Homo sapiens: one gene and its partners. The protein of the gene in region 2 interacts with the protein of the main gene of each other region in a pairwise test. Each region holds a gene or a part of one and is shown on either strand. Other genes may lie near its edges.

What was found.
Region 1: the proteins of HMBOX1 (region 2) and ZNF581 interact in binary tests that used the Homo sapiens proteins (3 or more experiments, as listed by UniProt).
Region 3: the proteins of HMBOX1 (region 2) and ZBTB24 interact in binary tests that used the Homo sapiens proteins (3 or more experiments, as listed by UniProt).
Region 4: the proteins of HMBOX1 (region 2) and BAZ2B interact in binary tests that used the Homo sapiens proteins (3 or more experiments, as listed by UniProt).
Region 5: the proteins of HMBOX1 (region 2) and SH2D4A interact in binary tests that used the Homo sapiens proteins (3 or more experiments, as listed by UniProt).
Region 6: the proteins of HMBOX1 (region 2) and PIAS2 interact in binary tests that used the Homo sapiens proteins (3 or more experiments, as listed by UniProt).
Region 7: the proteins of HMBOX1 (region 2) and REEP6 interact in binary tests that used the Homo sapiens proteins (3 or more experiments, as listed by UniProt).

What each region holds. Positions count from the first base shown.
Region 1 is NC_000019.10:55,642,429-55,646,123, forward strand, and holds ZNF581 (zinc finger protein 581), read left to right. Parts: upstream 1-1,220; 5' UTR 1,221-1,346; intron 1,347-2,124; 5' UTR 2,125-2,143; coding exon 2,144-2,737; 3' UTR 2,738-3,195; downstream 3,196-3,695. Other genes in the region: ZNF580 (zinc finger protein 580), read left to right, coding at 81-599. UniProt on the Homo sapiens protein: May be involved in transcriptional regulation.
Region 2 is NC_000008.11:28,963,395-28,966,894, forward strand, and holds part of HMBOX1 (homeobox-containing protein 1), read left to right. Parts: intron 1-416; 5' UTR 417-473; coding exon 474-496; intron 497-3,500. UniProt on the Homo sapiens protein: Binds directly to 5'-TTAGGG-3' repeats in telomeric DNA. Associates with the telomerase complex at sites of active telomere processing and positively regulates telomere elongation.
Region 3 is NC_000006.12:109,469,720-109,473,219, reverse strand, and holds part of ZBTB24 (zinc finger and BTB domain-containing protein 24), read left to right. Parts: intron 1-3,500. UniProt on the Homo sapiens protein: May be involved in BMP2-induced transcription.
Region 4 is NC_000002.12:159,386,049-159,389,548, reverse strand, and holds part of BAZ2B (bromodomain adjacent to zinc finger domain protein 2B), read left to right. Parts: intron 1-63; coding exon 64-204; intron 205-2,941; coding exon 2,942-3,196; intron 3,197-3,500. UniProt on the Homo sapiens protein: Regulatory subunit of the ATP-dependent BRF-1 and BRF-5 ISWI chromatin remodeling complexes, which form ordered nucleosome arrays on chromatin and facilitate access to DNA during DNA-templated processes such as DNA replication, transcription, and repair.
Region 5 is NC_000008.11:19,362,193-19,365,692, reverse strand, and holds part of SH2D4A (SH2 domain-containing protein 4A), read right to left. Parts: intron 1,622-3,500; coding exon 1,411-1,621; intron 1-1,410. UniProt on the Homo sapiens protein: Inhibits estrogen-induced cell proliferation by competing with PLCG for binding to ESR1, blocking the effect of estrogen on PLCG and repressing estrogen-induced proliferation. May play a role in T-cell development and function.
Region 6 is NC_000018.10:46,907,508-46,911,007, reverse strand, and holds part of PIAS2 (E3 SUMO-protein ligase PIAS2), read left to right. Parts: intron 1-3,500. UniProt on the Homo sapiens protein: Functions as an E3-type small ubiquitin-like modifier (SUMO) ligase, stabilizing the interaction between UBE2I and the substrate, and as a SUMO-tethering factor.
Region 7 is NC_000019.10:1,494,181-1,498,427, reverse strand, and holds the end of REEP6 (receptor expression-enhancing protein 6), read right to left. Parts: intron 3,135-4,247; coding exon 3,041-3,134; intron 2,960-3,040; coding exon 2,821-2,959; intron 2,144-2,820; coding exon 1,975-2,143; intron 1,838-1,974; coding exon of another isoform or gene 1,757-1,837; intron 1,255-1,756; coding exon 1,217-1,254; 3' UTR 501-1,216; downstream 1-500. UniProt on the Homo sapiens protein: Required for correct function and survival of retinal photoreceptors. Required for retinal development.

The DNA of each region.
Region 1 (3,695 bases), on a different chromosome or scaffold from region 2:
TCCATTTTAGGAAACTTTTCCTAAAAGGAAGTGGCAATTTTAACTAATCTCCCCTCCGCCGCTCCCAGCTGCCGCTCCAGATGCTGCTGCTGCCGCCGCGGCCACCCCACCCTCGGTCCTCCTCTCCGGAGGCCATGGACCCACCGCCCCCCAAGGCTCCCCCTTTCCCCAAGGCGGAAGGCCCCTCCTCCACTCCTTCCTCGGCGGCGGGGCCCCGACCCCCGCGGCTGGGCCGCCACCTCCTCATCGACGCCAATGGGGTCCCCTACACATACACGGTGCAGCTGGAGGAGGAGCCCCGGGGCCCGCCCCAGCGCGAGGCGCCCCCAGGAGAGCCCGGCCCTCGCAAGGGCTACAGCTGCCCGGAGTGCGCCCGTGTCTTTGCCAGCCCTCTGCGGCTGCAGAGCCACCGCGTGTCGCACTCGGACCTCAAGCCCTTCACGTGCGGCGCCTGCGGCAAGGCCTTCAAGCGCTCCAGCCACCTGTCGCGGCATCGCGCCACGCACCGCGCCCGCGCCGGGCCGCCGCACACCTGCCCGCTCTGCCCACGCCGCTTCCAGGACGCCGCGGAGCTGGCGCAGCACGTGCGCCTCCACTAAGCTCGAGACCCGGCCTGTGCTGCCCTGCCCGTCTCAGGGCCACCAAGTCTGACCCACACAGCGTCACTCACTCCCACACACACCCCCTGGCTCTGCTGAGGTTACTGCCTTACCCTGGGCCTCAGTTTCCCCACCTTCCAAAGGGAGGAGCATCATTCCTTCCTTACCCCCTTTCTAGCTGTGTGATGTAGACCAAAGTCGTTGCCCCTCCCTGGGCCTGGGAACCAGTCGGAACTGGGTTCCAGTCCAGCTGTGCTGTGTGAGCCTGTGCAAGTGACATGACCTCTCTAAACCTTGGTTTTCTGCTCTCTGGAGCGGTGAACCGGTGGTTGTCTGCGGGGAAGAGATGATAAAGAGCACGGGCACGGTCTGGTTCATTTCTGTATCTACCCCCCTTCCGCCCACGCCCCCGACCCTTTGCTCAATAAACATTCCGCACTCCATTTTCAGGCTCTTCCTTGCGTGTGCGTGCACGTTGGGTGCTGGGGGGTGGAGACCGGATCTTCCTCGCTTGGGTACTTTCCTCTCGGTGTGTGTTTCTGGCCGGAGCCGTTTCGCGACGGCCCGGGCGCCCCGCCCCAACCTTCCTTCCCTAGACCCTCTTCTCTCCCTTCGGCTTCTCTCTTTCGGCCGGCGCCGCCAGTTCCTGGGGCACACCCAGAGGTCCCCTTCTCGCCGCCGCCTGCAACTGCGAGGGTAGCCCGGGGCCGCTTGGAGTCGCCCGGACCTGAGAGGCTGCTGCACTGGGTACGGGGGCCGGGAGGAGGAAGGGGGCTGGGGGCGGGCGGCGGGAGGGGCTGGACCGCGTGGAGGGTACCTGGGCCGGGGCGGGAGTGGGGCAGACGCCGGAGGGGGCTGTTCTGGAGCTTGGAGGGGGCGAGAACTTACACAGAAAGGCCCAGAAAGCGAGGGCTGCGGCCCCGGGGGTGGAACCCCGGAGAGCGCTGGGACCTAGAACGAGCCTGGTGGAGGCCGGGCGAGGACTAGAGAGAACCTGAGGTGGGTGGACGGGTGGGAGCACGGAGTTGTTCAGACACGTGGCTGGAGAGAGGGCCGGAACCTGGGGGTCCTAACGTCGGAGCCCCTGTGAATAGGCTTGGCTTGTATGGAGGGGGTCAGGAAAGGCTTGAGTATGTAGCATAGGCCAACACGCAGACCCTGGAAAGGGCTAGAAGGAGGGGAGGGAGAGGCCTGGAGGCCTGCGGGGTGGGGCACCCAGTGACCTGGGAGGGCACAAAGAGGAAGGTTAGAGCGAGGTCCAGGTTGTGCAGAGGAGGTCAAGAGATCCTGTGAGTACAGTGTATGGTGGAGCACCGAGGCTAGGAGAGGTTTTCCAAGGAGGAAGACCCTGGGGACCTTTTAGGGGGCCACAGACTCCAGCTGTGAGCGGGACTGGAAAAGAGGGACTGAGGGGCAGCAGGATGCAGAGGTCCTGGGCCGGGTATAGGGAGGGAAAAGGATGGAGCCTGTGGTGCTGAGCTGCCCTCTTCTATATAACCTTCTTATCCCATCTCCCATCCACCAGGCCTCAGCCAGCCCTCCGGATGCTGGTGCTGCCATCCCCCTGCCCTCAGCCTCTGGCATTTTCCTCCGTTGAGACCATGGAGGGCCCTCCCCGTCGGACTTGCCGCTCCCCAGAACCTGGACCTTCCTCCTCCATCGGATCTCCCCAGGCTTCATCTCCTCCAAGGCCCAACCACTACCTGCTTATTGACACTCAGGGTGTCCCCTACACAGTGCTGGTGGACGAGGAGTCACAGAGGGAGCCAGGGGCCAGTGGGGCTCCAGGCCAGAAAAAGTGCTACAGCTGCCCCGTGTGCTCAAGGGTCTTCGAGTACATGTCCTACCTTCAGCGACACAGCATCACCCACTCGGAGGTAAAGCCCTTCGAGTGTGACATCTGTGGGAAGGCATTCAAGCGCGCCAGCCACTTGGCACGGCACCATTCCATTCACCTGGCGGGTGGTGGGCGGCCCCACGGCTGCCCGCTCTGCCCTCGCCGCTTCCGGGATGCGGGTGAGCTGGCCCAGCACAGCCGGGTGCACTCTGGGGAACGCCCGTTTCAGTGTCCACACTGCCCTCGCCGCTTTATGGAGCAGAACACACTGCAGAAACACACGCGGTGGAAGCATCCATGAGCCGGGCTGCCGGGTGCCCCAGGTACCACAGGACTTTGCAGGGAGCCTGGACTCCTGTCCAGACACCTGGTGAGAGCCTGAGGCTGGTGTTCAGGGCCCTGGACACAGACACAGAGCAGCCGCATCTCAAAGGCAGAGCCCTGCCTGAAGGAGGAATCCGTGAGTAATCTTCAGGTCCTCCGTGTTCTGGAGCTGAGATGGGAATGAGCCCCTACACAGAATGGAGTCCTCTAGCCTAAAGATATCAGCTGTTCCATGGCAGAGCCTTGACTGGATGGAGGTGGGGAGTGTGGTGTGTAAAGTCTCTGGCCTCATAAAAGGTGGCTGTGGGTCGTCAGGAATCTGCGCCATCTTCCTGGGGCTTCTGCGCTGTTGTTGGGGAAGGGACCCCAGTCCTGCCTTCCACCCCCCAACCAGGCCTGAGACTGATCAAACAATAAACACGTTTCCCACTCTGAGCACTCGAGGTTTGTTTTTAGAGACAGCATCTCAGACCCTCTTTGGTGGCCGTCTAGCAGGGAGACCTCAGCTTGCCTGGCTGGGGAATGGGAAGGTTGGCCTGCCTTGGGGTTATCCCCTCCTCAGCTCCTGAAGACCTGGGTCATCTGGGAAGAATGTTTTTAACTGAAACAATTTTAAAACCACAATCTCCTGTTACAAACACATTTTATATGGCAATAGAGTATACAGATAAGCAAAATACACGTGAACCAAGTTTCCTTTTTTTTTTTTTGAGACGGAGTTTCACTCTTTTTGCCCAGGCTGGAGTCCAATGGCACAATCTCGGATCACCGCAATGCCTCCTGGGTTCAAGCGATTCTCCTGCCTCAGCCTCCCTAGTAGCTGGGATTACAAGCGTGTGCCACCATGCCCAGCTAATTTTGTATTTTTAGTAGAGACGGGGTTTCTCCATGTTGGTCAGGCTGTTCTTGAACTCCCAACCTCAGGTGATTCACCT
Region 2 (3,500 bases):
TCATTAGTCATTGTTGGACACTTTGGCCATGCTTAATATAATTCAGTACTGAATATGTATTTCAATGTGAGAGTTTTTGACATCAACATTTTTAACTTTTGTCTAATTTATAATCTTAGAGTTAATGGAAATCAGTGCCTCTATAACTATGGTTTTAACCAGCTAATAAGTTGTCTTCATGATCTTTAGCTTCTAAACAATGAATAGTAGATACCATTTTTTGTTAAGATCTGTGTCTGAATTGAAAGGGATCAAAGTGTATGGTGAATAAAGCAGTAGAATGCAAATCAGAAGATATAATATTTAACATGATTAGCTAGTGTTAACTCTTGCTGTCCATCAGTTACATAATTAAAATTTTTATTCAGCACTTGATTAACATAAATGTTTCTCAATTTTCTATCTTTGTTCTACAGAATGGTAGATAACGCAGATCATCTCTGGAAAGGATATTGATCCGCCTCATGTAAAGTATGCTTAGTTCCTTTCCAGTGGTGTAAGTATCAAGTCCTTTTTGATTTTTATCTTCACAATCATTTTAGTAAAGTTAAGATGTCACTATGATTATGATCCAGATTTGACAACAGACGTTTGTAGAGTTGAAAAGCTTTTTTAGAAAATGAATCAAATGTTATACCTATTTGACATTAAGGTGAATAAGTGTCATGATCATGTGGTGAGAAATGAATTTTTAAATCTATCAGCCTTCTCTTACCATTTCTGTTTTCAACTTTGAATTTTAACATTAATTTTAAATTGAATATAAAATTAATTATTATTTTTAACTGCTTAAAGCTTAGAAGCATCCAAGATAGATGACTAACAGTTCAAGAGAGCTAATATTAGATTCCTTGTGACAAGCAGACTACTGGAAGCATACATCTTCATGTTGCCTTTTGTGTAAAAACTCCTAGCACCTTAACCATTTTCCTTTACCTGCTGGGGGCATGATGATGTAGTTAAGCCTATTAGCTGATGTGCTAGCCTTTCTTTGGAGTCAGGCAGAAAATACAAATTGAGATAGTGGTATTGTGTTGAGAGTGTTTTTGTGCTAGGATATGAACTATAACCACCAGTTCATATTAAATAGGCCTTTGAATAAAAGTATTCCGGGAATTTCAGATATTAGAGAAGACAGAGTATCTATTAGCTCATTAAGTGCATCTTTAGAGTCGAATGCAGAGTGCCTTTAGCATAAGTATTTTCTAAAATTTGATGGAGTCTCCACTTTGCTTAAATTCCTTCCGTTTTGGTTGACAGTTCTATAATACAGTAAGTAAACATTAAGAGAGATTTTCCTTATTATTTAGGCTTTTCATTATAGTTCCCCCACCCCCACCCCAGTAGATTCTATGATATAGTGAAAAGTTTCTGGAACAGACCTAGAAGATGTGAACTGTAGCCCGACTTTCTGCTAAGTAGCTATATCCTTGGGAAGGCACTTCACCTCTTTGGGCCTTAGTTTCCCTCCCCACTTTTTAAAAAAATTTATTTGCTAATGGCTATTTTCAATCTATCAGCCTTCTCTGTTACCATTTCTATTTTCAACTTTGAATTTTGACATTAATTTTAAATTGAATATAAAATTACTTATTATTTTTAACTGCTCAAAGCCTAGAAGTTTCTGAGATAGATGGCTAAGCATTCAGGAGAGTTAAGACGTCTAATGGCTATTGAAAATAGTAAGATGTCTAATAGTTACTGAAATGAATGTAAGCATCATGAAGCCATGAATTTTTGCCTGATTTGTTCCTTGTTGTGTCCTCTGTGCCTTGCACAGGATCTGTTACATAGTAGGCATTCAATAAATGTTACTTAAATGAATGATTTTTGTCTAAGTGATCTCCAGTTTTCTCATTCCACACCTAACTTATATCTCCCTTTATAAATGTGCATGTTTGTACTTGGATTTTTGTCACATATGGTAGAAATAAGATGATCAAAGTATGATTTCATGAATCACAGTGTTTATTGCCATACAAAGAGAATTTTTTCTTGGGTTCACAGTACTTAAAGATGGGGAGAGTAACATAGACAGACTTCACAGGGAATACACTCAATAGATGAGGTACATTAACCACATTATGAATGTGTTCCAAAGCTATTAAAGTGTCTTTGCTCAATTATGATGAAAGGAGGCCTCTGTGTTCAAGTGAAGGCTAAAGGTGGAGGTGTACCTTTACATGAGCAGTTCTTGGGAGAGGCTGGCTTGACCACCATAGCTGAGATCTGAGACCACAAGGAAGGCCCCTCAGTGCTAGAAAATGCTGGCCTGCAAGGTATAAAAGCTTTGAGGCCTGTTGCAGCCTGAGCTCTCTGGTTTTGGAGAAGCTGCTGACAGAGAGTAGCCCTGCCACAGCCTAAGCTCCCAAAGTGTCTGTTAAGCTCTTGAGTGTATATGTATTTTGAAGTCCAGTAGTTGTGACAGTAACTCACATATGCAGTTTGACATGAGGTGACATTCCTGAGAGGATGGAGAGTTCTCTCTCTGATAAAAATATTGTGATTGACCCTAGAGTGTGTTAAATTAGCATGCAGTAAATATCATGTATGCAAAACAAAACTAACCTATTTTGCCTAGTCATTCTAGATAATAAAAATAAAGACAGCAGAATTGAGCTGAAGAAAAAGCTGTTATCCAATAAAATTTTACTGTTGGTGCTTTACAAGTAAGATAGTAATGTCCTTTTTACCTCTGTGATTTCAAGATTAATTATTTGTGAATGCTTTAATCTTCTTTGCTCTACATGTTTGTAGAATTTAGCTTATGAAAGTATATTCTAGACCTCATGCCTTATCCAAGAAGGGTTTAGGTACATATTCAAGTCAGGATAAAATGTATTGTGAAAAGTTATTATTATGGTCTTATGGTATGATATTTTCTTAGAATATCAGTTTATGAACTGAGCCATAATTCCTGAATTTAATTGTTCTTTTATGCCTTAAACACTGTCTGTTATTACAGTGGTGAAATTCTTCTCACATCATTTTCAATTATTGTTGGCCTGAGTCTGCATTCAGATTAGTAATTTAAAGTGAAAGATGTTCCTTATCCTCTGAACAATCCTTGTGCATAAGAAAATTAATTCAATTCTTACATGTTATCTTTTTCTGTTATAAAAGAATTGCTGGTATCATGGACTTAGATGACCTTTGTAGGTCATTTACTGCCATAAATTCGTGATTATATGCTTAAACTAGGTAAATTATGAGAAATAAAATTGTGAAATGCCGGAGTATATGCCTTTGTTTATATTAATACACATTGGAACATTATTCTCAATATCCAGGAGAGCTTCTAGACTCAGCGTTTTCTCAGTAAAATATTGTATCTTCAGTGTCACATGCATGCTTTGATCCTGTTTGTTATGCTCTTAATCACTTTGCTTTGTAGTGATCATATGAATGATCATTCTAGCAATTGTGGATCATTTTGCTTTAGGTTATATTTGCATTAGGAAACTCTCAGTGCAGGGCACAGACATCTAATTTGAACAAGG
Region 3 (3,500 bases), on a different chromosome or scaffold from region 2:
CCTTGTCCCAGCTGCCAAGATTCTGATTGACTTCACCTGGGCAGAGCCTGGGAATTGGTGTTTTTTAAAGTACCCCTCAACAGTTGTAGGGTGCACTCGGGCTGAAGTACTTTGAAGGCCACAGTAAAGATTGGATTTTATTCTGAGGGAGATGGCTTTACTGAGATGAGTGACATGGCATGACTTAGGGTTGTAATAGGGTCACTCTAGCCACCCTGTGAGGTGGGGGCGAGGCCAGGGTGGAGGCAGAGAGACCCATCAGGAGGCTGTGCAGTAGTGGGGCTCGGAACAGCACAGTAGCAGCAGAGGTGGTGTCAGGTGGTCCAGTTCTGGAGATAGTCCAGGGAAGAATTCATGTGATTCGCTCATGATTGGATGTGGGAGTTGAAAGAGGAGGCAAAAGCCACTGTGAGGAGGAAAAGCTAGGGAAGACTAAGAAGAACAGATCAGGAGTTAGATTGTGGACTGGTTGGTGTCTATTTGACATCCATGTGCAGGTGTGGGGTAGATCATTAGATTTCCAGGTCTGGAGAATTCGGGGGAGAGATGCAGCCAGAGCTCTGGATTTCCACAGGTGCACATGTGCCTGCAAATAGTGGGTGGCGCTGTGCTGAGTTCCCTAGGGAGACAGCGGTGGTGGAGGAGCGTGGAGCTGGCTTGGTCATGCTGAGCAGTGCCAGAAGAGGCACTTCCCCTTGGTTCTGTTGCCTGAGCATAAGGGGGAGTGAGGTTTCTGGGCTTTGTGAGTAGCAGTAGGACTTGAAGTGGGGATGAAAAGGAACAGAAGACCTCCCCCACTATAATTCCAGCAAACTCTTCTCAGCCTGTCAACTTTGAGAAGCAGAACAGAAAGTGGAAGATGTGTGATGAGTTAAAAAGGAGACAGACGGGCCTCTGTGGTTTGCATGACTTAGAAATATGAAAAGAAATTGAACCTATCAAAAAATTGGGGTTCTTCAAGAGCAGCAACTATGACCCATCTGTCCCTAGCATCAGCATGGAGAATCTGCTTGAATGTTGGTGAAGGGCATTGGCGTGCCATTTCCCTGCTCCCTGGGCATTCAGAGTGAGAAGTGCCAGTCCTACTCTCAGGGCCATGCTCAGCTGGAAACCAAGACTTCATCTCTTAGAGATGAGCTGTCATTCATCTCTTAGATCTTTAGGCACAAACTCTCTGGGTTAGATGTCCTGCACCAAGCACTGGAGAAGTCAAAGGCAAATTAGAGATGTTCCCTTTCCTAGGAGTGCATCCCCAGTGAGGGAGGTGAACACATTTTGACATGGAGGCAAAGTGTCAGGCAGACAAGCAGTACCTGCCAGGTCACCACATCTCAGGCCCTTCTGCTCACATCTTGTCCCCATACCTGGCACTGGTCAGGTTTACAGGGACCCAATCAAGCCAAATGAGTTCACAGGACAGATAAACCAGAGGATATATCAACTCAATAGAGGGATTACACCTTTCTGTTGCCCACAGCACCTCCTTCCTCACATTAGTGACCCGAAAGCCAAGTTAGTGATCAGAAGATTGCATGGTGAGCTGGGAACAAGTCAAGGGAATTAGCCCAGGTCACAGAGAAGCCTGGTGAGTGACCTCTGACCCCACAGCACAGTCCCACCCCGCCAGTGTCCCTGTTCCTGGATGGTGTTCCATAAACACTGATTCTGCCCTGAGGGTTCCTACTCACAGGTAGATGGCCCTGTCAGGGAACAAATGATAAAGTTCAGTAAGTCACAGTTCTGTTCACAGCCTCATTGTGGCTTGAAGTTGAAGCTTCCCAAATCTCTTCAACTGTGTGTTGAGACCATCCATTAACGTTGAGACCTGGGGGTCTTCCCATCTTCCTGAGACCTGGGGGCCCCTCACCATAACATGCCCTTACAGAGTCTACGTGCCATCTACTATGAAACAGTATGGCGTGGTCAGAGCCACAGCAGAGGTGTGAACACAGGACAGGAAACAGCTGAGAAGACCATATAGGAATGCCAAGTACACAGGTGTCAAACCATGCTATCCACAGTTATCATGGACATGTGTCCCTTTTTTGCCAAGATTGGCAAGTACATGAGGAAATGCACATCTTTATTTATTGTTGGTGGGAATATAATTTGGGAACCCCCTGGAAGGAACTTTTGCAATACTTACCAAAACATAAACTGCACAATTGTGAAAAGATGTTTGCCTAAGGATATTCATCATAGGCAGCATTGTTTATAACTTAACAAGCTTAACAGCCACCTGAATGTCCCAGGAGGGGATTAGATAGGTAAATTTGGGGCAGTACACACAATGGTACACAGCACAGGGTTTTAAAATGGTGGTGTGGCTTTACTGATGTGACAAACGGCATGCATTGGATGACCTCACACAGTAAGACCGCAAATAAACAGATTTGTCTGTAAAGATATTCGCCATTGTTAACTGGTTGTCTCAAGAGATGAGAATAGTGGAGCAGTTTTAATATTCTTTGTATTTTCAATATTTGATTCTTTTACAATGAACACAGTAATTTTTTAAGAAAAACAAAGCCGTGGTCCACAGTGGGAGGCAGGATGCTGAGGGGTCCACACGGACGGAACTGGACTGCCAGGTGAATGTGACAGCTGAGGGAATGGGAGGTGTCACTGTGATTGTTGTGCCTGGCTGGACAGGGGCTGGGTGATGTTGTCATTAACATGTCATGCCCCATGTTATTCTGGGTTTCAGCAGGTGGGCATGGGAAATCCAGCTGTGATGCCAATAAGCAGTGACTCATCGATCCTATCTGGAGTGGGGTCCGGGATTTAAGTCACTGGGGAAGGGTAGGGGTGGGATCGGTGGAGTAACTGCTGAGAAGAGGATCTGGAAGTACACCCTGGAGCTGTTTCAGTACTTCCGTTGACATCACCCTGGGTGGGTGGGATTGGTGTAGTAACTGCTGAGAAGAGGGTCTGGAAGTACACCCTGGAGCTGTTTCAGTACTTCTGTTGACATCACCCTGGGTGGAACCTTTCATCACACTCCTGTCTCTGCCTTTTCCTTTAATCGCTATTGTCTAATCCTCTTGTAACACACTTCTTTCCGGTCCCCATGCCTCTCAGGCCCTGTCCTATTACCTTATCCTTCTCCGTCTGCCTCCTGCCACCTCCTGGTCCAGGCCTTGTGCATAGCCTGTTAGAGGTCCTCCTGCCTCTAGCCCACCCTCCTCATCATTCCCAGGTGTATTTTCTTAGTACTTTCAGCATGTCATTCTGCTAAAAACTTCCAGAGGCTCCACAGGTCCCCTGCCTGGATTTCATAGCTCCTGTTGCCTTGGCCTCCTGACTCCTGACAGTGATCCTTGGTCACTGGTGCACACCGTGTAGTCATTTCTGACACCAGCTTCTGCTCATACTATTTAGACTAGTACCCTGGCCCAGGCTTCTTTCCAGTCTAGCCAGATCCTGCCCACCCCATCCAGCACCCTGTCTGCACTCAGAATTGTTGACGCCACTCGTTTTAATGTTCAGTGAAACACAGC
Region 4 (3,500 bases), on a different chromosome or scaffold from region 2:
CTAAGTTTATTCCAACATATATAATGATTAAGAAGAATATGTGTACATGGTTTTCTTTTTAAGGAAAAAGAGCGGTTGAAACAAGAAAAACGTGATGAGAAAAGATTAAATAAAGAGCGTAAACTAGAGCAGCGAAGATTAGAATTAGAAATGGCAAAGGAACTAAAGAAGCCTAATGAAGACATGTGCTTAGCAGACCAAAAGGTAATTTATACGTCATGTACACCATTTCATTCATAAGTTTAATTTTTCCAGTTTTCTTACCTGATTTCTTTGCCAGAGCTGCTATTGTGAAAGCCTTTCATTTTTAACTATAGCAGTGAATTTCCAACTCTAGGTCAATTTGCCTTTCCTAGATAGCTAGAAGTAAACCTCTCTGGAGCTCTTGTGCTGGTAATGGCGGTTTTTTTGTTTGTTTGTTTGGTTGGTTGGTTGGTTGGTTGGTTGGTTGGTTGTTTTCAGACAGGGTCTTACTCTGTCATTTAGGCTGGAGAGAGGGCAGTGGCAGGATTATAGCTCACTGAAGCCTCAACTTCTCGTTCCCAGGCTCAAGTGGTCCTCTCACCTCAGTCTTCTGAGTTGCTGGGACCACAGGCGCTTGCCACCATGCCTGGCTAGTTTTTTGGGTTTTTGTTATTTTAATTTTTTGTAGCGGCAGACTCTTATGTTGTCCTGGCTGGTCTTGAACTCCTGGGCTCAAGTGATACAGCCACCTCAGCCTCCCAAAGTTCTGGGATTCCAGGCACAGAAAAATCTCAACTCCTCCCCACATCCCTATGGATATTTAAATAAATGAGGATTTATAATCTGTGACCTCCTTCAGTGCTTTAGGTGGCAAACCTTTATTGAACATGTTTACTACATGCTAGGACTGTGCTAAGCACTTATTTGAATTTTCTCATTTAATCCTCAATACAATCTTGTGGAGTTAGTATTTCTTCCCATTTATACATGAGAAAACTGAGACACAAAGAGGTTAAGGAACTTGCCCAAGATTACACAACTAATAAATGGCGATTTGGATTCAAACTCCAGTTTGTTAAACTCCAGAGCCTATACTGTTTATCATCCTGAAAGCCAAGAAACTGTGTCCAACCAAAGCACCTCATATGTGTTTTGTCTTCCATAGTGCTTCACAGACATGTAATGTTGCTGAAATACATAAAAGTATAAATTTAGAAACATTGCTGTAATCTTGGCAACCAGCATAATTTCATATACTTTTGAGTAAAAATCAATGATGTTTTGACTATAGTTAAGAAGATGGTACTTCTAGAAAAATATCAATAATGCATTTCATCTCTATATTATTATACTTAATTAGTAGGATATGTATTTACTTATATGCAATATTCAAATGATTTGCAAATAATGATTATCTCTTGATTTATGTAAGCTCTTTTTTTATTTTATTTTATTATTATTATACTTTAAGTTTTAGGGTACATGTGCACAATGTGCAGGTTAGTTACATATGTATACATGTGCCCTGCTGGTGTGCTGCACCCATTAACTCAATTATGTAAGCTCTTTTCTAAAGTGCTTAAAGAAAACTTTTAGTACTCTAGAATGGATTGAACTATATTAATATTCTATTTATTTACTTAGCATAAATGCTTCTAAATAAAAATGAGAGTATACTTACTAGTTGTAGTCATTTGGATATTTAAATTTTCCTAAGCAGAGAATGGGTATATAAATTAGTTAACACATTTAATAAGCTCATAGTGATCAAGCTTTTTAAATCCTAAGTGAGCTTCATTTTCTTGTATCTTTTATTTTCATTTAAATTCATATGTACTATATCAAATATGTAAGTCCATTTTAAGCCATATTTTTAATAGCTCAGCTTTGCTACATAAATTTTTAGAATTACATAGAAATGTATATGTTTCCTGTGGTTCAAGAAAAAGGGAGAATGAGAATTAACTGGCTTTCAAGAAGAATATAAAATATTTGTATGAGATGAGCTATTATCTATAGTTTTGTGTTTCCACACAGTATTAACAGAAAAAGTCTTCAATTGGTTACCTCAATAAATGCAGAGTGGAGAAATATTTTTGAACAAGGACCAATTCAGATAAATAGAAATATTTATGTCACTTTTTTTCCAATTAAAATTTAAAGTACTTTTTTAGGCTCTCATTAACAGGCAAAATGTTTTTAATTCAGATTACCTATTTATTGAAATTTTAAAATGTTGATGACAACTGGTACTGCAATTAAGTCATTAAAATGTTAATATGTGAGCATATTTGAGAAATAACAACAGAGATAGCTAATTTTAATACTGAAGCTAATACTTGCCTAAATACAGGGAAACCTAAAGACCTTTAGTTGCATTATAACTGGGTTTATGTACAGGGTCATGGATTCTAGTTATGTGGACCTAGTTATTTATCTGCATTCATTAGCCATAGATGGTACCACTTTCTCCAACCATAGAGCCCACAGATGCATGCTGTTTGTTTCTAAGCTACAAAAAAAGTGTGATTTTTAAATGTCATCATCATTAGAAGAAATTGGTGCACATGCCCCTATAAGTATGTCCATGGTAAAGTACTTTTGAAATGTTTATATTTTATTTAATTTTTGCTCCAGTTATATAATCCATGTTTTGTTAATATGGATATGTCAGTTGATTGAATATGCAAGTTGATTAAAATTAATGTCTCTTTTGCAAAGATCTAAGTTCATAATTGAGTTCAACCAAAATTTATTAATGGTTGCTTACTTGTATGAAGATACTTCAAGACACTATGCTTAGTTCCATGGGGGTTACAGAAATGCCCCCAGAGAATTTAGCATCCCAAAGGAAGCTACTGGTACAATACAAGAGGGGAAAAAAGGTAGCAGCTTATTTTACTTTAGAAGATACGAAATCATGGCTTTTAAAAAATTAAGCTGTTTTTATTTTATTTGTATTTCATTTTATTTTCAGCCTTTGCCAGAGTTGCCTCGTATTCCAGGACTTGTTCTCTCTGGAAGTACATTTTCAGACTGTCTCATGGTGGTGCAGTTCTTACGAAACTTTGGTAAAGTTTTGGGCTTTGATGTGAATATTGATGTTCCAAACCTGAGTGTTCTTCAAGAGGGATTGCTAAATATAGGGGACAGCATGGGTGAAGTACAAGACTTGCTTGTGAGGCTCCTCTCAGCTGCTGTATGTGATCCAGGTCTAATAACAGGATACAAGGTAAAAAAAAACAAAATATAAAATGTTTTAAATTTGTACTGTCAGTGCATTGGTAGATAGCTTTAGCATATTAGCAGAAGATTATATAGATTGATCTAATTTTTCCACATAATGTCTCACAAAGTTAACTGTAGATTTGTGTCAGGTTACACTTCATACAAAGAAAACCTGGTTATAAAGCTTAAGGAATGTAGACCATTCTCAAGTTATTCTTTTTTCCTCTAGCTGTAGGCAAAGACCAAGGTGATTTAAGGAAATCCTTAAGCGATATTCATCAACAACAGAATTCATAATTCATAAGGCA
Region 5 (3,500 bases), 9.6 Mb from region 2:
GAAAAAATGAGCTAACTGAGCACAGCTGAAAATAGGAATTGCCCTTTTTTAAAGACCACCTTCATTGCTGTCAATCAAATATACTGTCCTTCAAAATGCTGTGGGACAGGGACATCTACAAGTCATTTCCATGCTACCTTTGGAAGAGACGGTGAACAGGAGTTAGCTGCAAAAACATCCCTGCTGAGGCTCTGTCGCCAACGTGCGGACAGACAAGCTCCAGCACTTAGAGCCGTGTGCACCTTTGTCAGCTGTTCTCACAATTAAGAGACTCCTATTTCCTGACTACATTTCTTGCTTTGTTGTCGGTAAGAGAAGAATCATTACCCAAACGATCACTTTGGAGATCATGGTCTTTACTGTAATTATTTCCACTTACTCCACTGAGTTCCACGTTGGTCCCCACTTCCCGAAACGGAACTTTCCAGTAGAGTAAGTAGAAATAATTACAGCAAAGAAAAACATCCGCCTTTGTGTTTCCCCTGAGGTCATCACTCCTGTTTAAAGACAACCTTGAAGATAACTACGACTCCAAGCAGGAGAAGAGTCTTATTTTTCATTTCTCCATAATCTTAGAGAAGTATTTCAAATTATTTTTAGTTTTTATTTCAGAATGCAAGGCTTTAGACAATTCTGTTTCTTTCAATCAACATTTGATTTTAATACTTCTTTCTAAATACTAGGATGTTAAAAATAAGATCAATAACCAGAAAAAAATTTAGAATCAGCAAACATAAGGGATGGGGGTTTAATAGCATCATTGCACTTTTCTACAGTTTTTCCAGAACAAATGGTTCTTCCTAATTCTTCCACAGCCTAGCAGACAATGGTATCTCCACCACCAAATAGACAATTCATCTAAAAAAGGAGGCTTTCCAAATTCTTAAAAGAGGAACTTGGCTATGTATCCGTGAATGAGAATTACCATCAAACCTTTAATCCTTGGCAGTGAAAATGTACTCCCACTGATCACACGAAAGTCAGCAAGCCTTTGGGTTCCTACTTTGATAATCTTTGACTAAGGGTGATCTTGGGCATCAGTGAAACCCCACTTGTTTCCTCTTCTCCCCTCACTGGCTCACCGGCTGCCTCTGGGGGGGAGGGGGGCGGGGGAGGGAAAGGGGAGAGTGGGGTAGGGACACGGGAAGTTCTCTCATTCCATGCACAGCTTTACTATTTCACTGGGTATACTAAGTATAACAGCTATGGACATTTGACAGCTAAAAAAGGGAGGAATGCCCGCCCAGATCACCCAGGAAGAAGGCTTAGACATGAACCTGAGCTACTTACACAGGCTGCCAGTTGGCCCTCCACACCCCATGGCAGCTCATACAATTCCCCTTTAATTTCAACGCTTATTCAAAGCCCATTGCAATGTTTATGCATAAACCCATCTGTGTGGCTTCTTACCTAAGAGGTTTTTGAGGATATGCCCCTGAGTTTAGGAACTGAGGCTTGGGTGGAAGGGGAGGTCTTTCTGGTTTCTGCGGAACACGCAAGGGGCTTTGCAGCCTCTCACCGCCTCTTCCTTTCTGGGCCCCGAGGGATAACCTCTTGTAGTCTTCTCGTGCTTGTTTAGCCAAGGAGCGTCTCTTCTCATCAGCTGCTTTGGATTTTCGCACTGGAAAAACAACGGGGTCGGAGAAAACCCTCATCAGCCCACAGAGCAGGTGAGAAGGCTCAGCATTCATTGCACAACGGGCAGCAGCGCAGGTTCTCAGCAGTTTGTTGTCTGCTTATAATAAGGAACAATCATTATCAACACCTATGATCCAGGCCATTAGGGCTTGCCCAGCGTTCGCTGCAGGATTCCTCTCTTCATACAGGACTGGGGGTTTTCTGAGAGGGAGAGAAAAGGAAGAGGAGGAAGAAGGGATGAGAGAGAAGTAGAGAAAGTGTGCAAGAATTTCCTGCAGTTGGCAAGACCAAGTGAGGATCCCCCGCCTGAGCATGGGTTCAAGCTGGCAGGGGTGCTGAGTAATAAGAGGCAATTGTCACGCCCTGCATGACTTATGTTCAGATGCAGTGTGCTTGACTCACTAGCAGAGATCAGGACTACTCAGTGGCATGGGGCTGTGCATAGGGTGAAGGAGCAGAGAGCAGGACAGAATGAGAAGCAACCTGACAGACAAAAAATTAAAGGGATGCTTAACCACAGGTAATTGTAGGACACATTAGTACACAAAAAAGTACCCCAAGTCTGCCTTTTAATATTACAGTCACTAGTGACTTAATGAGAGAAATAAATCCTGAGAAATGCATCATAAGGCAACTGTAACACAAGAGTATTTGTGTGTCTAAATACCCCCAACATAAGGCCGGGCACAGTGGCTCATACCTGTAATACCTGCACTTTGAGAGGCCAAGGTCGGTGGGTCACCTGAGGTCAGGAGCTTGAGACTAGCCTGGCCAACATGGTGAAACCCCAACTCTACTACAAATACAAAAAATTAGCTGAGCATGGTGGCAGGCGCCTGTAATCCTAGCTACTGGGGAGGCTGAGGCGGGAGAATCCCTTGAAACCAGGAGGCGGAGGTTGCAGTGAACTGAGATCACACCATCGCACTCCAGCCTGGGTGACAAGAGCGAAACTCCATCTCAAAAAAATAAAAATAATCAATACCCCCAACATAGCAAAGGTATAGTAAAAATATGGTATAGAGGACAAAAAAAAATGGTGCCTCTACATAAGGCACTTACCATGAATGGAGCTTGCAGGACTGGAAGTTGCTCTGGGATGAGTCAGTGAGTGAGTGCTCAGTGAATGTTAAGACCTAGGACATTACTACACACTGATGTTGACTTTGTAAACACTTTACACTTAGGCTACACTACATTTATAAAATTTATTTTAAAAATGTATGCAACCCATTATTTTGGGGTTTTATTATTATTTTTTGGTTTTCTGTATGTGTGTGTCTGTGTTTTTTTTGTTTTGTTTTGTTTTGTTTTTGAGACTCAGTCTTGCTACATTGCCCAGGCTGAAGTGCAGTGGTACGATCTCGGCTCACTGCAACCTCCGCCTCCCTGGTTCAAGCAATTCTCCTGCCTCAGCCTCCTGAGTAGCTGGGACTACAGGTGTACGCCACCACAACCAGCTAATTTTTGTATTTTTAGTAGAGATGGAGTTTCACCATGTTGGCCAGGCTGGTCTTGAACTCATGACCTGAAGTGATCCACCCACCTTGGCCTCCCAAAAGGCTGGGATTACAGGAGTGAGACACAGTGCCTGGCCTAAAAACTATATGCGACCCATCGTTGACCAAAACATCATACAGCGCATGACTACTTTGTAAAACAGAATTTTTTGTTATAGCAATGAGACTCAAATGCAGAATGTAAAAATGATTTTTATTGACTATATTTACACTTCAGGCAGTATTGGTCAAATCCTGTTATACTTGACTTCAAAGAGACACCCAAAATATTCCCTTATGCTAGGATTTCAGTGCATAGTACAAAGAGCCTACTGGATCTTGCAAATATTTTCATTTCACAGT
Region 6 (3,500 bases), on a different chromosome or scaffold from region 2:
TAGATCTATTGTTATTTGGATCCCATGTTTTTCTCTTTTAGATACCTTTTTTATTTTACAGGAATACAGCCTTCAATAGTTGTTTCTGGAAGGATATGCTGGTGATAAACTTTCTGAGTTCTCGAATGTTGAAAATGGCTTGTCTTTGTTCCTGATTGAAAGTTTACATGTGGAATTATAAATTCCTCAGAATTTTGAAAACTTTGCTGTGGGAATCTAAAATACTTGGTGTGCTAATCAGAGGTCCATTGCAGATCTGATGGTTATTCTCCTGTAGAAGATTGTAATCTACAATTGTAGTCTACGATCTACGGGATTTGTTTACATTCTGAAAGGTTTCTTTGATTTTGTCTTTGAACTTTTCTATAAAATTTATTTCAGTAGTTATCTTTAATTTATAAGAGTTCTTCTATCATCTTTCATTTTTCTTTCTTTTTAAATAGCAACCTGTCCTTGATTTATGGGGAAATACCTTGAATTTCTCTGATGCTAATTTCTCTAGAGTTCTTGAGACACTTCCCTGAATTGGTGACTCTAACAGTGGGTTTGTATTTAGGTATTCCATACTAATTTTTGTATTTTAAATATTTAAGTTATTTGATAAGTACAAAAGATTATAACAGGTAAGGCGTATGTAAACAAACATACATATAATTACCAACCAGTTTACTAATTCATTAGTGTAACTTTAGCAGGATGCACTTTCCTGATCACATCCACTGCAACCATGTCCACCTTCACCAATGACAGTAGCCATTGTACTGAATTTTGGATTCATCATTCCTGGTCTGTCTTTATACTTTTAACATATATACATATGTAAAATTTATTTATTTATTTATTTATTTTTTGAGACGGAGTTTTGCTCTTCTTGCCCAGGCTGGAGTGCAGTGGCGCGATCTTGACTCACCGCAACCTCCTCCTCCCAGGTTCAAGCAATTTTACTGCCTCAGCCTCCCGAGTAGCCGGGATTACAGGTGTGCACCATGCCCGGCTAATTTTTTTGTATTATTAGTTTTCACCATGTTGGCCAGGCTGGTCTTGAACTCCTGACTTCAGGTGATCCACCCGCCTTGGCCTCCCAAAGTGCTGGGATCACAGGTGTGAGCTACTGTGTCTGGCCATCCATATTTCTTAAATCCAAATGTTTGAAAATGAAGAGAAAAAAACTGTAAAGTTTCACCAAACTTGTCTTGCAGAAAAACCCTGACCTGCACTGATATTGTAATCTTTGTTGATCTCACTTAGTGTGAATATTTGTATGTTTCACTGTAGAGATTCTAGGAATAGAATTGCTGGTATTTAAGAAGAATGTGTGCATATTCACCAATATTGGATAATGTCAGATTATCTTCCAAAAAAGGTGGTGTCAGTCTTCGTTCTCTCCAGCAATGCAGAAGTTTTCATTACTCAGCTTTCTTGCTAACATCTACTTTTGTCACACTTCAAAAGGTTTTATCGGTTGGGCATGGTAGCTCACGCCTGTAATCCTAGCACTTTGGGAGGCCATGGTGGGTGGATGGCTTGAGACCAGGAGTTTGAGACCAGCCTGGGTAAAATGGTGAAACCCCATCTCTACCAAAACAAAACAAAATTAGCTGGGCATAGTGGCCCACACCTGTAGTCCCAGCTACTTGGCAGGCTGAGATGGGAGGATCACCTGAAGCTAGGAAGTGAGCTGTGATCATGCCATTGCACGCCAGCTTGGGCAACAGAGTGAGACCCTGTTTCAAAAAAAAAAGTTTTTACCCACGAGTATAAAATACCACCTTTTAGTTTTCATTTGCTTTGCTAATGAGTTTGAGCATCTTTTACTATACTGATTAGCCATTCTTCCCTTTTCTCACATTCCTATTCATGTCTTTTGCCCATGTTTGTACTAGTTTTTTAAAAAAATTATTTCATACTGATTTTTAATAGTTTCACAGTTGGATGCATGTGGTGCAAATTTCTCCTTTCAATTGGGCTCACTTTTAAATCATTTTTATTTTTATTTTTTGAGATGGAGTCTCACTCTGTAGCCCTGGCTGGAGTGCAGTGGCGTGATCTCAGTTTACTGCACCCTCCACCCCCAAGGTTCAAGAGATTCTCCTGTCTCAGACTTCTGAGTAGCTGGGATTACAGGTACCCGCCACCATGCCTGGCTAATATTTGTATTTTTAATAGAGACGGGGTTTCACCATGTTGGTCAAGCTGGTCTCGAACTCCTGACCTCAGGTGATCTGCCCACCTTGGTCTCCCAAAGTGCTGGGATTATAGGCATGAGCAACTGCATCCAGCCTTATGCGTTTTTTGATGAGTAGAAGTTCTTAATTTTTATGTGATTGCATTTATCAGGCTTTTCTTTATGGATAGTGCTTTTGAATCTTGTTGAAGAAATTTTTCAACAGAGTTCTCGAAGATATTTTCCATTATTGTAAAAGTATAAGACGTAGTTTTTTTGTTTTTTGTTTTTGTTTTTTTTTTACCTTTTCTCATTTAAGGTTTTAATCCACCTGGAGTTGATTTTGTATACAGTGTGAAGTGGTGACCAAGATGCATGGTTTTTCCTCAAAGAATAATAAATTGTTCCATCACCTTTCATGCAAATTTTTTTCTTCACTGGTTTGGATGCCATCACTCATCTGTGCTTTGGTTCTGGACTCTGGGCCGTTAGTCTGTTTTTACAGAAATTGTTAAAAAGTTACAGTAACTAAAACAAGATGATGCTGCTGCTAGCATAAACAAACTTCTTGCCTGGTGAGGTGGCTCAAGGCTGTAATCCCATCACTTTGGGAGGCCATGGTGGGAGCATCACTTGAGCCAGGAGTTCAAGACCAGCCTGGGCAACATGGTGAGACCCCATCTCTGTGTAAGATAATATTTTTTATAATAAAAAACCAAACTTCTTTTGATATATAGCATACACATAGGAAGTACACAGATAATGAAATTATAGCTGGATGAATTTTCTCAAAATAATAATCGTGCAGGTCAAGAAAGAGAACATTACCAGCACTCTAAATATTCCCCTCCCCAGTGGCTAACCTCACCTCATTCTTCCAAAAGCGACCTACTATCCTAACTTTAACAGATTAGTATTGCCTGTTTTTGAACTTTATATAAATGGAACCTGTGTAGTATATATACAGTTGCCCCTTGGTGTACCTGGGGGATTGGTTCTAGGATCCACCCTCCCAACAGGAAAATCATGTGTACTCAAGTCCTGAAGTTGGCCCTGCAGAACCCATGTATAGGAAAAGTTGGCCCTCTGTATATGTGGGTTTCACGTCCTGCAAATACCATATTTTTGATCTGCATTTGGTTGAAAAAAAAATATGCGTATAAGTGGACCTGCACAGTTCAAACCAGTTGACAAGATACAGTTGACCTTTGACTAACACAGGTTTTTGTTATTGGATATGTTATTGTTATTCAATATTCAACTATATGTTATTGTTATTCAAAGGTCAACTGTATTCTGTTTCTGTATATGTATTCTGTTGTTTCTGCCTTTTTTT
Region 7 (4,247 bases), on a different chromosome or scaffold from region 2:
CTGCAACTTCTGCCTCCTGGGTTCAAGCAATTCTCATGCCTCATCCTCCCAGGTAGCTGGGATTACAGGCATGTACCACCATGCCTGGCTAATTTTTGTATTTTTAGTAGAGATGGGGCTTCACCATTTTGCCCAGGCTGGTTTTAAACCCCTGACCTCAGGTGATCCACCTGCCTCAGCCTCCCAAAGTGCTGGGATTACAGGTGTGAGCCACCGCACCCAAATGGGGGAGTTTTAAGAGAAGCAGGCTAATGCAAATAGGCCAGACAACTAGTTCGGGAGGGAGGAGAGAAAGCACTGTGATTAAGGACAAGCTTTTCCGGGGCTTGCACCCATCCTGGCCATGTGGGTGGACCTTGAGTGGGTGAATTAGCCTCTGGGCCTCAGTCTCCTCATCTATATTATGGGGCTGGTCGGCACAGCCGGGATTCATGCCTGATGAAATGGGACGGTGCCCTCGCAGCCCCTCCCCTGGGCCCCCCGCACACGTGGCACACAGGTCTGGTCCGGGTTAGCTTTATTGGAGCCTCCTAGCAGGCCAGGTGTTTCAGGCACCAGTAGTGCTGCAGGCACGGGGGCCTGTGGTGTGGCCAGCTGCAGGTGATCTCGGTGGTGGACTCCGAAGTGTACTCCAGAGAGGTCCCGGAATGGCAGGGGACCAGCTCGGGCACTGAGGCGCTGCTGGCAGGCTGTTTCGACGATTCCTTCTGGCGCTGTCCGCTGGTCTTGGGGGCTGCGTCCTCCGGCTTGCCAGAGGACTTGCTGGGGGGCTGCGTGGGGATGTTGCTGCTGCTGGGAGACTGGACCATGGGTGAGACCGGGCTGGAGGTGACGTTGGGTGGCTGCAGGGGCCCCGAGGACGGGAGGGCTGACTGGGAGGGGCTGGAGGAAGTACCAGGCGGCTGGGTGTGTTGCCGAGACCAGTGGGAGCTGCCCTGTGCCCGACGCTGGCCCTGGGCCCTGCCGGACAGGCGGGAGCCACAGCCAGAGCCAGAGGGCAGCTGGCCCTGGGATCCAGAGCTGGGGGTGGCCGAGGACTGGGACTGGGACTTGCCCGAGGTGGCATTTAAGGAGACCCCCAGGGCCTTGCCTGGACCCGAGGGACTGGCAGGGGCTGCTGTTGGGGGATGCGCTGAAGACTCTGTGGAGGCCTGGGAGCCTGGCGCGGCCCCCTCCTCACCAGCCAGGAGGTCCTTGTGAGGCTCAGGGGGCTGCTTCACTTGTCCTTCGGCTGCGGGGTCTGGCTTGGCTTGACTGCAGAGAGAGGGGCGGGTGGGGGAGGGCCGTGAGGCAGGCCTGGGCTCCCCGGAGCTGCTCGCAGGCGGGACTGAGGCTACTGGCTATGAGCATGACAAGTCGAGGGGCCGGGCAGCCACCCTCAGCAGAGATGGTGTCAACCACACAGAGGCTTTCATGGTCACCCATGCACAGATGGGTGCACACAGAGCACACGCATGTGCAGTCATGCACACGCACGCACTCACACGTGCACACATGGTCACACGCACACACATATACTCACATGCACACGTGGGCACACACACACATATGCACACGTGAGAAAACATGCTCACTCCCTTGCTCACTCACACACCAAACATACACTTGAGCCCATGCACACGCACCCTCTTGCACATGACAAAACATGCACACACAATAATACATGTGCACACAGCAAACATACGCTCAAACACACGCGCGCGCGCGCGCACACACACACACACACAGCTCCTATCTCCCCACAGCGGTTACGTACGGTCAGCTTCCAGGGGAGTGGAGGGCCCGGCCACAGCCACCGGGGTGATGCCTGCCCGGCTACGGGCCAGGACCTGCAAGACTGGTTCCCGGAAGCGTGAGAGAGAGAGGCGGACAGTGAGAGGGGGCGGCCAAAGTCAGAAAGGGAGGCAAGGTGGAGAGAGACAGGTCCAGACCCGGGAGATGGCCTGAGGCAGCCAGGCGCCTGCGAGCACCCACCGTTCCTGGTTATTCCGGCCGCCGCGTCCAGGGCTCGCCCGCTGAGGTCGTTCATGATTCTGTCTACGGCCCCGTGGTGCCTTAGGAACAGCGGACGCACGACGCGCTGATACAGCATGAGAGCCCCGTTCCAGGGCCTGGGAGCCATGCAGAACAACAGGAAGGCGCACTGCAGGGCGGGGCAGGAGTTACACGCGGGCCCACCCAGCTCTGTGCCCCTGGTGGGGAGAGGGGCTGCACCACTCCACCAGATGCCCATCCTGGACAGGCACTGGGTCTCCACCATCAGACACCCTTTAGGGTGGGCCCGCCACCATCAGACGTCCTATTGGGATGGGCCTGGGTTTTCGCCATCAGATACCCTCTAGAGTGAGCCCTCCACCATCAGACGTCCTACTGGGACAGGCCTGGGTCTCCACCGTCAGACACACTTTAGGGGTGGGCCCTGTGCCATCAGACATATTATTGGAATAAGCCTGGGTCTCCACCATCAGACACCCTTTAAGTGAGCCCTCCACCATCAGACATCCTATTTGAGCAGGCTTGGGTCTCCACCATCAGACACCCTTCAGGGTGGGCCCTCCACCATCAGACATCCTGTAGGGTGAGCCCTCCACCATCGGACATCCTATTGGAGCAGGCTTGGGTCTCCACCATCAGACACCCTTCAGGGTGGGCCCTCCACCATCAGCCCCCGGACAGGGCTCGTTTCCCCAGGGAAGGGACTGAGTCTTCCCCTCACATCCCCCATCTCCTGGTATCCTCCGGACTTTCTGGCCCCAGCGCCTCCCAGGAATCCCCAAGCCCCATGCGCTCCACGGCTGTGCCCGCCCTGGCAGGGCCCACCTTGCCCACGTAGTAGAAAGGGAACCAGGACAGGAGTAGATCGCTGAAGAACTCGGCCAGCCCAAACAGGGCGTACACCACCCAGTAGGTGAGCCACACAGTGTCGTCGTCCTTGCTTGGGCTCTCGATAGCTTTGATTCTGCAGGGAGGGTGCAGCAGGGTCAGGGGCTGCCAGGGAGCCCCCAGAACCCCCCGCGTGGGCAGCCAGCCGTGCACTCACGAGGCATATGCGGGGTACACAAATCCGATGAGATTGCACAGCAGAGACGCTCCGTAGCCGAACAGCAGATACAGGCTTAGCAGAGTGACGGCTCCTGCCGGAGAGAGGCGGTGGTGTGCCAGGGCTGGGGACCCGCTGAGCCCCCACGACGGTACCCAGGCCGCCTTTCAGTCGACGAAGACTGCAACCGTCACCTCCTCCCAGGAGCCGCCTCCAGGATATGTCCACTGCCCCTGATGTGCCTGTACATCCCCCATCGTGCCTCTAGGCCCTGAGCCTTGTGCCTGTAACTGGTCAACGTGTCCATGTCCCCCACCGGGGTTGAGAGCTCCCCAAGGGCAGGCAGGAGCTCGACGCTGGGCAGTGGGGGTGGGTGCGGAATAGCTGCCCAGTGAAGTGTTTGCAGCCGGGCGCGGTGGCTCACACCTGTAACCCCAGCACTTTGGGAGGCCGAGGCAGGTGGATCACGAGGTCAGGAGATGGAGACCATCCTGGCTAACACGGTGAAACCCCATCTCTACTAAAAATACAAAAGATTAGCCAGGCATGGCGGTGTGTGCCTGTAGTCCCAGCTGCTGGGGAGGCTGAGGCAGGAGAATGGCGTAAACCCAGGAGGCGGAGCTTGCAGTGAGCCAAGATCGCGCCGTTGCACTCCAGCCTGGGTGAGGCTCCGTCTCAAAAAAAAAAAAGTGTAATCTGCAACGATAGCCATCTCATTCCAGGCCCTTTGGGAGGCACTGGGAAAACAGGCCAGTGTTTCAATATAAGGGATGGCAGAAACCTGCAAGGGAGGCCAGGCTGTCATGAAGACTTGATTCTAGAGCTGAGAAAGGCAACTGTTTCATCTGTTATCTTAGCGCAGGGTTTCTCTGCCTTGGCACTGCTGATGTTCAGGGCCGGGTCATTCTTGGTTGTTTTCGGTGGAGAGGGGGAAGTGGCTGTCCTGGACACTGCAGGGTGCTGAGCAGTGTCCCTGGCCTCTGCCCACTCCATGCCATCAGCCCCCAAGTCATGACGACTACAGGTATCTCCAGACATCACCCAGTGTCCCCTGGGGCGGGGTGGGGGGCAGGGCTACCCCCTTTGAGAACCTCCTGTCTTGGAGGCAGCAAACCCCAGCATCTCGATCCCCTGGGTGGAGGAGAGCCCTTTGGTCGGGTGTGCACTCACCAGCCGGCACTGAGTGAGGCTGTGGCTGCATGGAGCC